2 separate regions of the Homo sapiens genome follow, and region 1 is linked to region 2. Evidence: fine-mapped expression QTL. A gene starts in region 2. The other region holds a variant in brackets. All regions are shown on one strand. Distances are between the middles of the regions.

Region 1 (5,208 bases), 67 kb after region 2:
TTAACAAAGATATTCAGGACCTGAACTCAACACTGGATCAAATGGAGCTGATAGACATCTACAGAACTCTTCACCCAAAAATAATAGAATATACACTCTTCTCATCTCTGCATGGCACATACTCTAAAATCAGCCAATGAGAAATAAAACAATGCTCAGAAAACGCAAAAGAACCAAAATCATACCAACCACTCTCTCAGACCACAACAATAAAATTGGAAATCAAGATTAAGAAAATCTTTCGAAACCGTACAATTGCATGGATATTAAACAACCTGCTCCTGAATGACTTTTGGGTGAATAATGAAATTAAGGCAGAAATCAAGAAGTTCTCTGAAACTAATGAGAACAAAGATACAACATACCAGAATCTCTGCGACATAGCTAAGGCAATATTAAGAGGGAAATTTACAGCACTAAACGCCCACAGTGAAAAGTTAAAAAGATCTTGGCTGGGTGCGGTAGCTCACACCTGTAATCCTGTAATCCCAGTACTTTGGGAGGCTGAGGCGGGTGGATCATCTGAGGTCACGAGTTCGAGACCAGCCTGGCCAACATGGCGAAACCTCATCTCTACTAAAAATACAAAAGTTAGCTGGGTGTGGTGGTGGGTGCCTGCAATCCCAGCTACTCGGGAGGCTGAGGTGGGAGAATCACTTGAACCTGGGAGGTGGAGGTTGCAGTGAGCCGAGATTGCACCACTGCCCTCCAGCCTGGGCAACAGAATGAGACTCTGTCTCAAAAAAAAAAAAAAAAAAAAAAGAAGAAGAGTTAAAAAGATCTCAAATTAATTAACAACCTAACATCACAACTCAAAGAACTAGTGAAGCAAGAGCAAACCAACCTCAAAGCTGGCAGAAGACAAGAAATAACCAAAATCAGAGCTGAACTAAAGGGGACCGAGACATGAAAAACCATTCAAAAGACCAATGAATCCAGAAGCTGTTTTTTTGAGAAAATTAATCAGATAGACTGCTAGGTAGGTTAATAAAGAAGAAAAGACAGAGGATCCAATAAACTTAATTAGAAATGACAAACGGAATGTTACCACTGAGCCCACAGAAATACAGGTAACCATCAGAAAATACTATCAATGCCTCTATGCACACAAACTAGAAAATTTAGAATAAATGGATAAATTACTGGACACATACACCCTCCCAAGACTAAACCAGGAAGAAACTGATTCCCTGAACAGACCAATAAGAAACTCTGAAATGGAAATAGCCTACCAACCAAAAAAAGGCCGAAGACCAGATGGATTCACAGCTAAATTCTACTAGAAGTACAAAGAAGAGCTGGTACCATTCCTACTGAAACTATTCCAAAAAATTGAGGAGGAGGGACTCCTCCCCAACTCATTCTATAAGGCCAGCATTATTCTGATACCAAAACATAGAAGAGACATGACAAAAGAAGGCTTCAGGCCAATATCTTTGATGAACACTGATGCAAAAAACCTCAACAAAATACTAGCAAACCAAATCCAGCAGCACATCAAAAAGTTAATCTACCATGATCAAGCAGGCTTTCCCCTGGGATGCAAGGTAGGCTCAACACATGCAAATCAATAAACATGATTTATTACATAAAGAGAATTAAAGACAGAAACCACATGATCATCTCAATAGATACAGAAAAGGCTTTGGATAAAATACAACATCCTTTCATGTTAAAAACTCTAATAAACTAGGTATTGAGGGAACAGATCTCAAAATAATAAGAGCCACCTATGACAAACTCATAGCCAACATCATACTTAATGGGCAAAAGCTGGAAGCATTACCCTTGACATCCGGCACAAGACAAAAATGCCCTCTCTCATCACTCCTATTTAACATGGTATTGGAAGTCCTGGCCAGAGCAATCAAGTAAGAGAAAGAAATAAAGGGCACCCAAATAGGAAGAGAAGAAGTCAAACTATCCCTGTGTGCAGACGACATGATTATATATCTAGAAAACCCCATACTCTCTGCCCAAAAGCTCCTTGAGCTGATAAGCAACTTCAGCAAAGTTTTGGGATACAAAATCAATATATAAAGATCACTAGCGGCTGGGCGTGGTGGCTCACTCCTGTAATCCCAGCACTTTGGGAGGCCAAGGCAGCAGGATCACTTAAGGTCAGGAGTTTGAGAGCAGCCTGGCCAACATGGTGAAACCCCGTCTCTACTAAAAAAAAAATTCAAAAATTAGCCGGGCATGGTCACAGGTGCCTGTAATCCCAGCTACTCAGGAGGCTGAGGCAGGAGAATTGCTTGAACCTAGGAGGCGGAGGTTGCAGTGAGCAGAGACTGCGCCATTGCACTCCAGCCTGGATGACAGAGTGGGCAGTGGTGGCGGCGGCGGGGGGGCGGGGGGGGAATCACTAGCATACCTGTACACCAACAACAGCCAAGCCAAGAGCCAAATCATGAATGCAATCCCATAGGAATACAGCTAACCAAGGGGGTGAATGAACTCTACAATGAGAATTACAAAACACTGCTCAAAGAAATCAGAGATGACACAAACAAATGGAAAGATGTTCCATGCTCAGCCGGGCGCAGTGGCTCATGCCTGTAATCCCAGCACTTTGGAGGCCGAGGCGGGTGGATCATGAAGTCAGGAGATCAAGACCATCCTGGCTAACACAGTGAAACCCCATCTCTACTAAAAAAAAATACAAAAAATTAGCCGGGCATGGTGGCGGGCGTCTGTAGTCCCAGCTACTTGGGAGGCTGAGGCAGGAGAATGGCATGAACCCGGGAGGTGGAGGTTGCAGTGAGTGGAGACTGCGCCACTACACTCCAGCCTGGGTGACAGAGCAAGACTCCATCTCAAAAAAAAGAAAAAAAAAAAAGATGTTCCATGCTCATGGATATGAAGAATTAATACTGTTAAAATGGCCCTGCTGCCCAAAGCAACTTACAGATTCAATGCTATTCCTATCAAACTA[C/T]CAATGACATTCTTCACAAAACTAGAAAAAACTATTTTAAAATTCATATGGAACCAGAAGAGAGCCCGAATAGCCAAGGCAATCCTAACCAAAAGGAACAAAGCTGGAGGCATCATGCTACCTGACTTCAAACTATACCACAGGGCTATAGTAACCAAAACAGCATGGTACTGGTACAAAAACAGACACATAGACCAGTGGAACAGAATAGAGAGCCCAGAAATATCGGAGCACACGTATAATAATTTGGTCTTTAATAAAGTTGACAAAAACAAACAATGGGGAAAAGACTCCCTATTCAATAAATGGTGCTGGGATAACTGGCTAGCCATATGCAGAAGACTGAAACTGGACCCTTTGCTTACATTATATACAAAAATCAACTCAAGATGGATTAAAGAGTTAAATGTAAAACTTAAAACTATGAAAACCCTATGAAGACAACCTAGACCATACCATTCTGGACATAGGACAGGTGACGATTTCATGACAAAGTTGCCAAAAAAGCAATTGCAACAAAAGCAAAAATTGACAAATAGGATCTAATTAAACTAAAGAGTTTCTGCACAGCAAAAGAAACTATCAACAGAATAAAAAGATAACCTACAGAATGAGAGAAAATATTTGCAAGCTATGCATCTGACAAAGGTCTAATGTCCAGTGTCTATAAGGAACTTAAACAAATTTACAAGAAAAAAAACAAAAAAAAATTAAAAAGAGGGCAAAGGACATGACTAGACATTTTTCAAAGGAAGACATGCATATGGCCAACAAGCATATTTTAAAAAGCTCAATATCACTGATCATCAGAGAGATGCAAATCAAAACCACAATGAGATACCATCTCACACCAGTCAGAATGGCTATTATTAAAAAGTCAAAAAATAACAGATGCTGGCAAGGTTGTGGAGAAAAGGGAATGCTTATACACTGCTGGTGGGAGTACAAATTGGTTCACCCATTGTGGAAAGCGGTGTGGCAATTCCTCAAAGAGCTGAAAAGAGAACTACCGTTTGACACAGTACTTCCATTACTGGGTATATTATATACCCAAAGGGATATAAATCGTTCTGTCATAAAGACACATGCACACATATGTTCACTGCAGCACCATTCACGTTGCCAAAGATATGGAATCAACCTAAATTCCCATCAATGGTAGACTGGATAAAGAAAATGTGGTACATATACATCATGGAATAATATGCAGACATAAAAAAGGAGATCGTGTCCTTTGCAGGGACATGGATGGAGCTGGAAGCCATTTTCCTTAGCAAACTAACACAGGAACAGAAAACCAAATACCGCATGTTCTCACTTATAAGTGGGAGCTAAATGATGAGAAAATGGACACAAAGAGGGGAACAGCAGACACAAAGAGGGGCCTACTTAAGGGTGAAGGCTGGGAGGAGGTAGAGGAGCAGAAAAAATGACTATTGGGTACTAAACTTAGTACCTGTGTCATGGAAATAATTCGTACAACAAATTCCTGTGACATGAGTTTTTTTTTTTTTTTTTTTTTTTGAGACGGAGTCTCGCTCTGTCGCCCAGGCCAGACTGCGGACTGCAGTGGCGCAATCTCGGCTCACTGCAAGCTCCGCTTCCCGGGTTCACGCCATTCTCCTGCCTCAGCCTCCCGAGTAGCTGGGACTACAGGCGCCCGCCACCGCGCCCGGCTAATTTTTTGTATTTTTAGTAGAGACGGGGTTTCACCTTGTTAGCCAGGATGGTCTCGATCTCCTGACCTCAAGATCCACCCGCCTCGGCCTCCCAAAGTGCTGGGATTACAGGCATGAGCCACCGCGCCCGGCCTACATGAGTTTACGATATAACAAACCTGCACATGTACCCCTGAAAATAAAAGTTAAAAAATAAAAATAAAACCTTCTCCTTAATGAGGATAGTGTTGCCATTGGCAGGGAAAGTGTTAGGAAGTAAAAGGGGGTTCTAGGTGCTAAAATGTTCTATAATTCATCAGGGTCTACATGGTTGTGCTCAGTTTTGTTGTCTGTTTTTTTTGAGACGGAGTCTCACTCTGTTGCCCAGGCTGGAGTGCAGCGGCATGATCTCGGCTCACTGCAAGCTCCACCTCCCGAGTTCACGCCATTCTCCTGCCTCAGCCTCCCAAGTAGCTGGGACTACAGGTGCCCGCCACCACGCTCGGCTAATTTTTTGTATTTTTAGTAGAGACGAGGTTTCACTGTGTTAGCCAGGATGGTCTCGATCTCCTGACCTCATGATCCACCCGCCTTGGCCTCCCAAAGTGCTGAGAT
Region 2 (5,478 bases):
TTCGCAGCCCAGCCCGGGTCCTCCCAGGGGCCCGGCCAGCGATGCATCTGAGGTGACAGGTGGGGGACCCTGCACCTCTCTCTGAAAACTGAACCCCAGCCCAGGCATCGCTCCGAGCTCTCAACCCAGGCATCCGAGTGGAAAGTGGCAAGCCCGGGTCCCCCAGCCTTGGTGCTGCCTCCCCTGCGCGCGGGACAGGGGAGAGAGGAAGGAGGGATGCTGGCCTGGAGAGAGGCAGGAGGGACACTGACCTGGAGAGAGGCGGGAGGGACACTGACCTGGAGAGAGGCGGGAGGGACACTGGCGTGGAGAGAGGCGCGCGGGACAGGGGAGAGAGGCGGGAGGGACACTGGCCTGGAGAGAGGCGGGAGGGACGCTGGCCTGGAGAGAGGCGGGAGGGACACTGGCGTGGAGAGAGGCGGGAGGGACACTGGCGTGGAGAGAGGCGGGAGGGACGCTGGCGTGGAGAGAGGCGGGAGGGACGCTGGCGTGGAGAGAGGCGGGAGGGACGCTGGCCTGGAGAGAGGCGGGAGGGACGCTGACCTGGAGAGAGGCGGGAGGGACGCTGGCCTGGAGAGAGGCGGGAGGGACACTGGCGTGGAGAGAGGCGGGAGGGACACTGGCATGGAGAGAGGCGCGCGGGACAGGGGAGAGAGGCGGGAGGGACACTGGCCTGGAGAGAGGCGGGAGGGACACTGGCGTGGAGAGAGGCGGGAGGGACACTGGCCTGGAGAGAGGCGGGAGGGACACTGGCCTGGAGAGAGGCGGGAGGGACACTGGCGTGGAGAGAGGCGGGAGGGACACTGACCTGGAGAGAGGCGGGAGGGACACTGGCGTGGAGAGAGGCGGGAGGGACGCTGGCCTGGAGAGAGGCGGGAGGGACGCTGACCTGGAGAGAGGCGGGAGGGACGCTGGCCTGGAGAGAGGCGGGAGGGACACTAGCCTGGAGAGAGGCGGGAGGGACACTGGCGTGGAGAGAGGCGGGAGGGACGCTGGCCTGGAGAGAGGCGGGAGGGACGCTGACCTGGAGAGAGGCGGGAGGGACGCTGGCCTGGAGAGAGGCGGGAGGGACACTAGCCTGGAGAGAGGCGGGAGGGACACTGACCTGGAGAGAGGCGTGAGGGACACTGGCCTGGAGAGAGGCGGGAGGGACACTGGCCTGGAGAGAGGCGGGAGGGACACTGACCTGGAGAGAGGCGGGAGGGACACTGGCGTGGAGAGAGGCGGGAGGGACGCTGGCCTGGAGAGAGGCGGGAGGGACGCTGACCTGGAGAGAGGCGGGAGGGACGCTGGCCTGGAGAGAGGCGGGAGGGACACTGACCTGGAGAGAGGCGTGAAGGACACTGGCCTGGAGAGAGGCGGGAGGGACACTGGCCTGGAGAGAGGCGGGAGGGACACTGGCGTGGAGAGAGGCGGGAGGGACACTGGCTGGCCTGGAGAGAGGCGGGAGGGACACTGGCCTGGAGAGAGGCGGGAGGGACGCTGACCTGGAGAGAGGCGGGAGGGACGCTGGCCTGGAGAGAGGCGGGAGGGACGCTGACCTGGAGAGAGGCGGGAGGGACGCTGGCCTGGAGAGAGGCGGGAGGGACGCTGGCCTGGAGAGAGGCGGGAGGGACACTGGCGTGGAGAGAGGCGCGCGGGACAGGGGACAGAGGCGGGAGGGACACTGACCTGGAGAGAGGCGGGAGGGACAGGGGAGAGAGGCGGGAGGGACAGGGGAGAGAGGCGGGAGGGACGCTGGCCTGGAGAGAGGCGGGAGGGACACTGGCCTGGAGAGAGGCGGGAGGGACACTGGCCTGGAGAGAGGCGGGAGGGACACTGACCTGGGAAGCCCGCGGCTCGGGGCAGGCGAGGATCAGGAGCAGAAGGAAGAGCGCGCGCGGAGAGCTGGGCACCATCTTGCCAGTCGGAATCCCGCTGCCTGGGAGGGGAAATAACTTTGCCTCCGCTGCCGAGTTTGTCCCAGCGATGCGGCAGCCGTCCCTGCAGGGTGCGGGGCGCCGCGCGGCCGGGGGGCGGCTGGGGCAGGGGGGGAGGCGGGAGGCCCCGAGCGCAGCGCGTCCCGCGGGGATCGGCGCCGCCCGGGCCTTGCGAGGGTCCAGGTGCGCCCGCAGCTGCCCGCACGAGACAGTCCGCGCGAGGCGGGGAGGCGCCGGCCCCTGGGCTAAGGACGAGGGAGGAGGGGCTGCCCGGCCGGGAATGCGCCCGGGAGCGCGCCCAACCCGCGACGCCGAGGACGAGCGCGGGCATCCTCGGGGCCTGGCAGGGATGGGCGGCCAGTGCCCCGCATATGTGCGGGTGACTGGAAGCCCACCCTGGGCGGGTTCACTCCCGACCGTCCTATTTCCCAACCAAGTAGACTGAGGCTCAGTCACCAAGGACAAGTGGCAGAACAGAAACCCAAACCCAGGTCTGTCCTACTTCAAAGCCCACGCGACACCCTCCTCCCGACATTCCTAGAAGGGGGCCAGGAAATGGGCTTCATAAGCTTGACGTGGGGTGGACTGAGCTCTCCATCCGAATAAACTAGTGTCCCTTTAAATAATGCAATGGGGCCGTGAGAACACGCACGCACAGTGAGTAGATACACACACAGTGATACAGTGAGGGGATCTACGTCCTTCTGATTCACTGTCCTCCTTGCTCAAGGGAAGGAGAAACTCAGTTTAAATCGGAGGTCAGGTTCTAGAACATTGCCTGCCTTGCTGAAGTCGAATCAGGAAGTGCCAGGCCGGCATGAGCAGTCTGAAGTCCCCTGCCATCAGGGCTGTGGTACAACCAGATGCCTCAGACCTGAGCTCCCGGAAGGCATGACTGACGTTCTTCCTGGAAGGTTTTCTGAAGGCAGTCACTGCAGATGTCCTGGGACACACAAGTCTGGTCAAGCCCCAGATCTCTTTTTCCTCTTCCACATTTCACTTTGTTGAGCCCACTCAGAGCTCAGGGAACGGGGAGCCCACAAGACTGTGACCACAGAGCAGGAGCTGTTTCCCAGCAGAGGCCAGAAAGGAAAGCTGGAGTCCTGGCTTAGTCCCTTCAAACTGCTATAGCAAAATACCATAAACTGAGTGGCTTATAAACAATAGAACGTGTTTCTCACAGTTCTGGAGACTGGGAGGTCCAAGATCAAGGTGTCAATAGATTAGGTGTTTGGCGAGGGCCAGAGTTCTGGTTCCCGTGTCCTCACAGGGGAAAGGCAGCTCTCTGGGGCCTCTTTTCTGAGGGCACTAATCCCAATTTTGAGGGCTCTGCACTCATGACCTAGTCACCTCCCAAAGGTCCCACCTCCTAATGCCATCATCTTGGGAATGAGGTTTCCAACATATAAATTTAGGGGAGACACCAACATTCAGAACCTAGCCAGTGCCCCAAAAAGCAGGGGACATGGTTTAGGCTGGCCTCCTGGGCATTGGTTGCCCAGGAAATCCTACAGTGCTGCTCCCCCAACCTTCCCATGCAAAGGAGGTGGAACGGGACCCATGTAAATCTTTTTTTTCTTTGAGACGGCGTCTTGCTCTGTTGCCTAGGCTGGAGTGCAGTGGCCTGATCTCAGCTCACTGCAGCCTTGCCTCCCTGGTTCAAGTAATTCTCCTGCCTCAGCCTCCCAAGCAGCTGGGGCTACAGGCATGCACCACCACGCCTAGCTAATTTTTGTATTTTTAGTAGAGACAGGTTTTCACCATGTTGGCCAGGCTTGTCTTGAACTCCTGACCTCAAATGACCCACCCGCCTCAGCCTCCCAAAGTGCTGGGATTATAGGTGTGAGCCACTGCAGCCTGCAAGGGATCCATGTAATTTTATTTTGCATTCCTGGTTGAACATCCTGAAGAGAGACATGGTCATACCCCTGCTTCTCCCTATCCAGGTGGAGAGGACGGGACAGCATGGCCCGATCCAGGGCAGCCTGTGGAGATGGTGGTTTTCTGCCTCGATCTCTCATGTGTTTGCTGTCTGTACCAAAAGCCAGTGCCCTGCTCCCTCTCTGTCTCTCTGTCCTCTGCCCTATCCTTGAAAAGCTTCCTCCTGGTCAGTGTGGCTGCATTTATTAATATTTTGTGTCCTATCCCACCTTGTGTTTACATGGCGACCTTCTCTGGAAGGCCAGCTGTTCTGGCTCTCAGCCTTGTTCTGGCTATGCGCTGGTAACCAGACATCGGGCAGATGTAAGCAAGCCTTCTTTTCTCTTCTCCTGCCCTTTCTGTGGAGTCATAAAGCTGGAAGAGATTCTTGATTTCACAGATGAAGAAGCTGAATCGGGGCATGGTTGACTGACTTGCCCAAGGAATGCAAACTCTGGTCTCAAGATCCCCCTCCCAGAGCGGTGCTGTTTCTAGGACAGACTACCTTTGACTTTATCCCACCTCTCATTTTAGGGCTACTATGTTGCTTATATTAAATACATGATCATAGCATTTCAGGAATTTTATTTACAGTAATGGGGGGTTTTCTGTTTTTTTGTTGTTGTTGTTTTTTGTTTTCTTGGGTTTTTGCTTTTGTTTTTACTTTTCAAATATTTCTAAGTTTCAACAGGATTTTTTTTCCTATGTAATTATTTATATTTGTAACCCTTTCCCTATGGCTGCCTTCCCTCTAAGTGTTCTGGCATCTGGTCTGAATGAACCTTCTAAGATCTGACTGCCCCAGCAGCACTGTCCTTTCTCTGTCTTTGTCCTCAGCTGCCCTGGATCTGCAGTAATCAAGGCAGAGCCTATCAAGTCCAGAACCTACCAAGGCTGTCTACAAGCAGACAGCCCATGAAAATCAGCTGGGTGCTCTACCTTTAAGCCCCCAACCCTCACCTTTAACTGAATACAATGGGCCTATCAGCCTTTTTTTTTTTTTTTTTTGAGACAGTCTCACTCTATTGCCCAGGCTGGAGTGCAGTGGCATGATCTCAGCTCACTGTAACCTCTGCTGCCTCACAGAGGCAATCTATTCTCCTGCCTCAGCCTCTCAAGTAGCTGGGATTACAGGCACCTGCCACCATGCCCAGCTGATTTTTGTATTTTTAGTAGAGACGGGGTTTCACCATCTTGGCCAGGCTGGTCTTGAACTCCTGACCTCGTGATCCACCCGTCTCAGCCTCCCAAAGTGCTGGGATTACAGCCATGAGCCACCATGCCTGGCCCTTATCAGCTAGTTTATTCCTCTATTTCCCCTCTATTTAGTTTTCAAGAGAATATTCCTGAGTGTCGGGGGATTGGTTTGGTGGGGTTCAACATGTCTACAGAAAGTATTTTAAACATCTTTTGGTAAGATCAGTTGCCATCTCCTTGGATTAGTGCTCTGATACATTCAGGTTCTCTGTGTAACATAGGCATGCAACACAAAATGGGAAGATTTGTTGCAGAAATTTGTCTTTAAGACCCCAACAGAGGCCAGGTGCGGTGGTTCATGCCTGTAATCTCAGCACTTTGGGAGCTGAAACAGGCGGATCACTTGAGGTCAGGAGTTTGAGACCAGCCTGGCCAAGATGAT

The links. PIP is the estimated chance that this variant, and not a neighbour inherited with it, causes the effect.
Region 1: its variant is the best candidate, but not a certain one, in a credible set for the expression of FBLN7 in whole blood (INTERVAL, PIP 0.74).

What each region holds. Positions count from the first base shown.
Region 1 is chr2:112,068,450-112,073,657 of GRCh38, reverse strand. The region is part of intron 4 of TMEM87B (transmembrane protein 87B); the gene reads right to left. Among named protein-coding and RNA genes, the nearest start is that of TMEM87B, 16 kb to the right of the region's middle. The variant C/T (reference allele first, on the strand shown) is at 2,936.
Region 2 is chr2:112,135,076-112,140,553 of GRCh38, reverse strand. FBLN7 (fibulin 7) reads right to left here and starts at 2,169. Exons shown (of 8, transcript NM_153214.3): 1 at 1,824-2,169. The coding sequence starts at 1,898. RefSeq lists an enhancer at 1-352.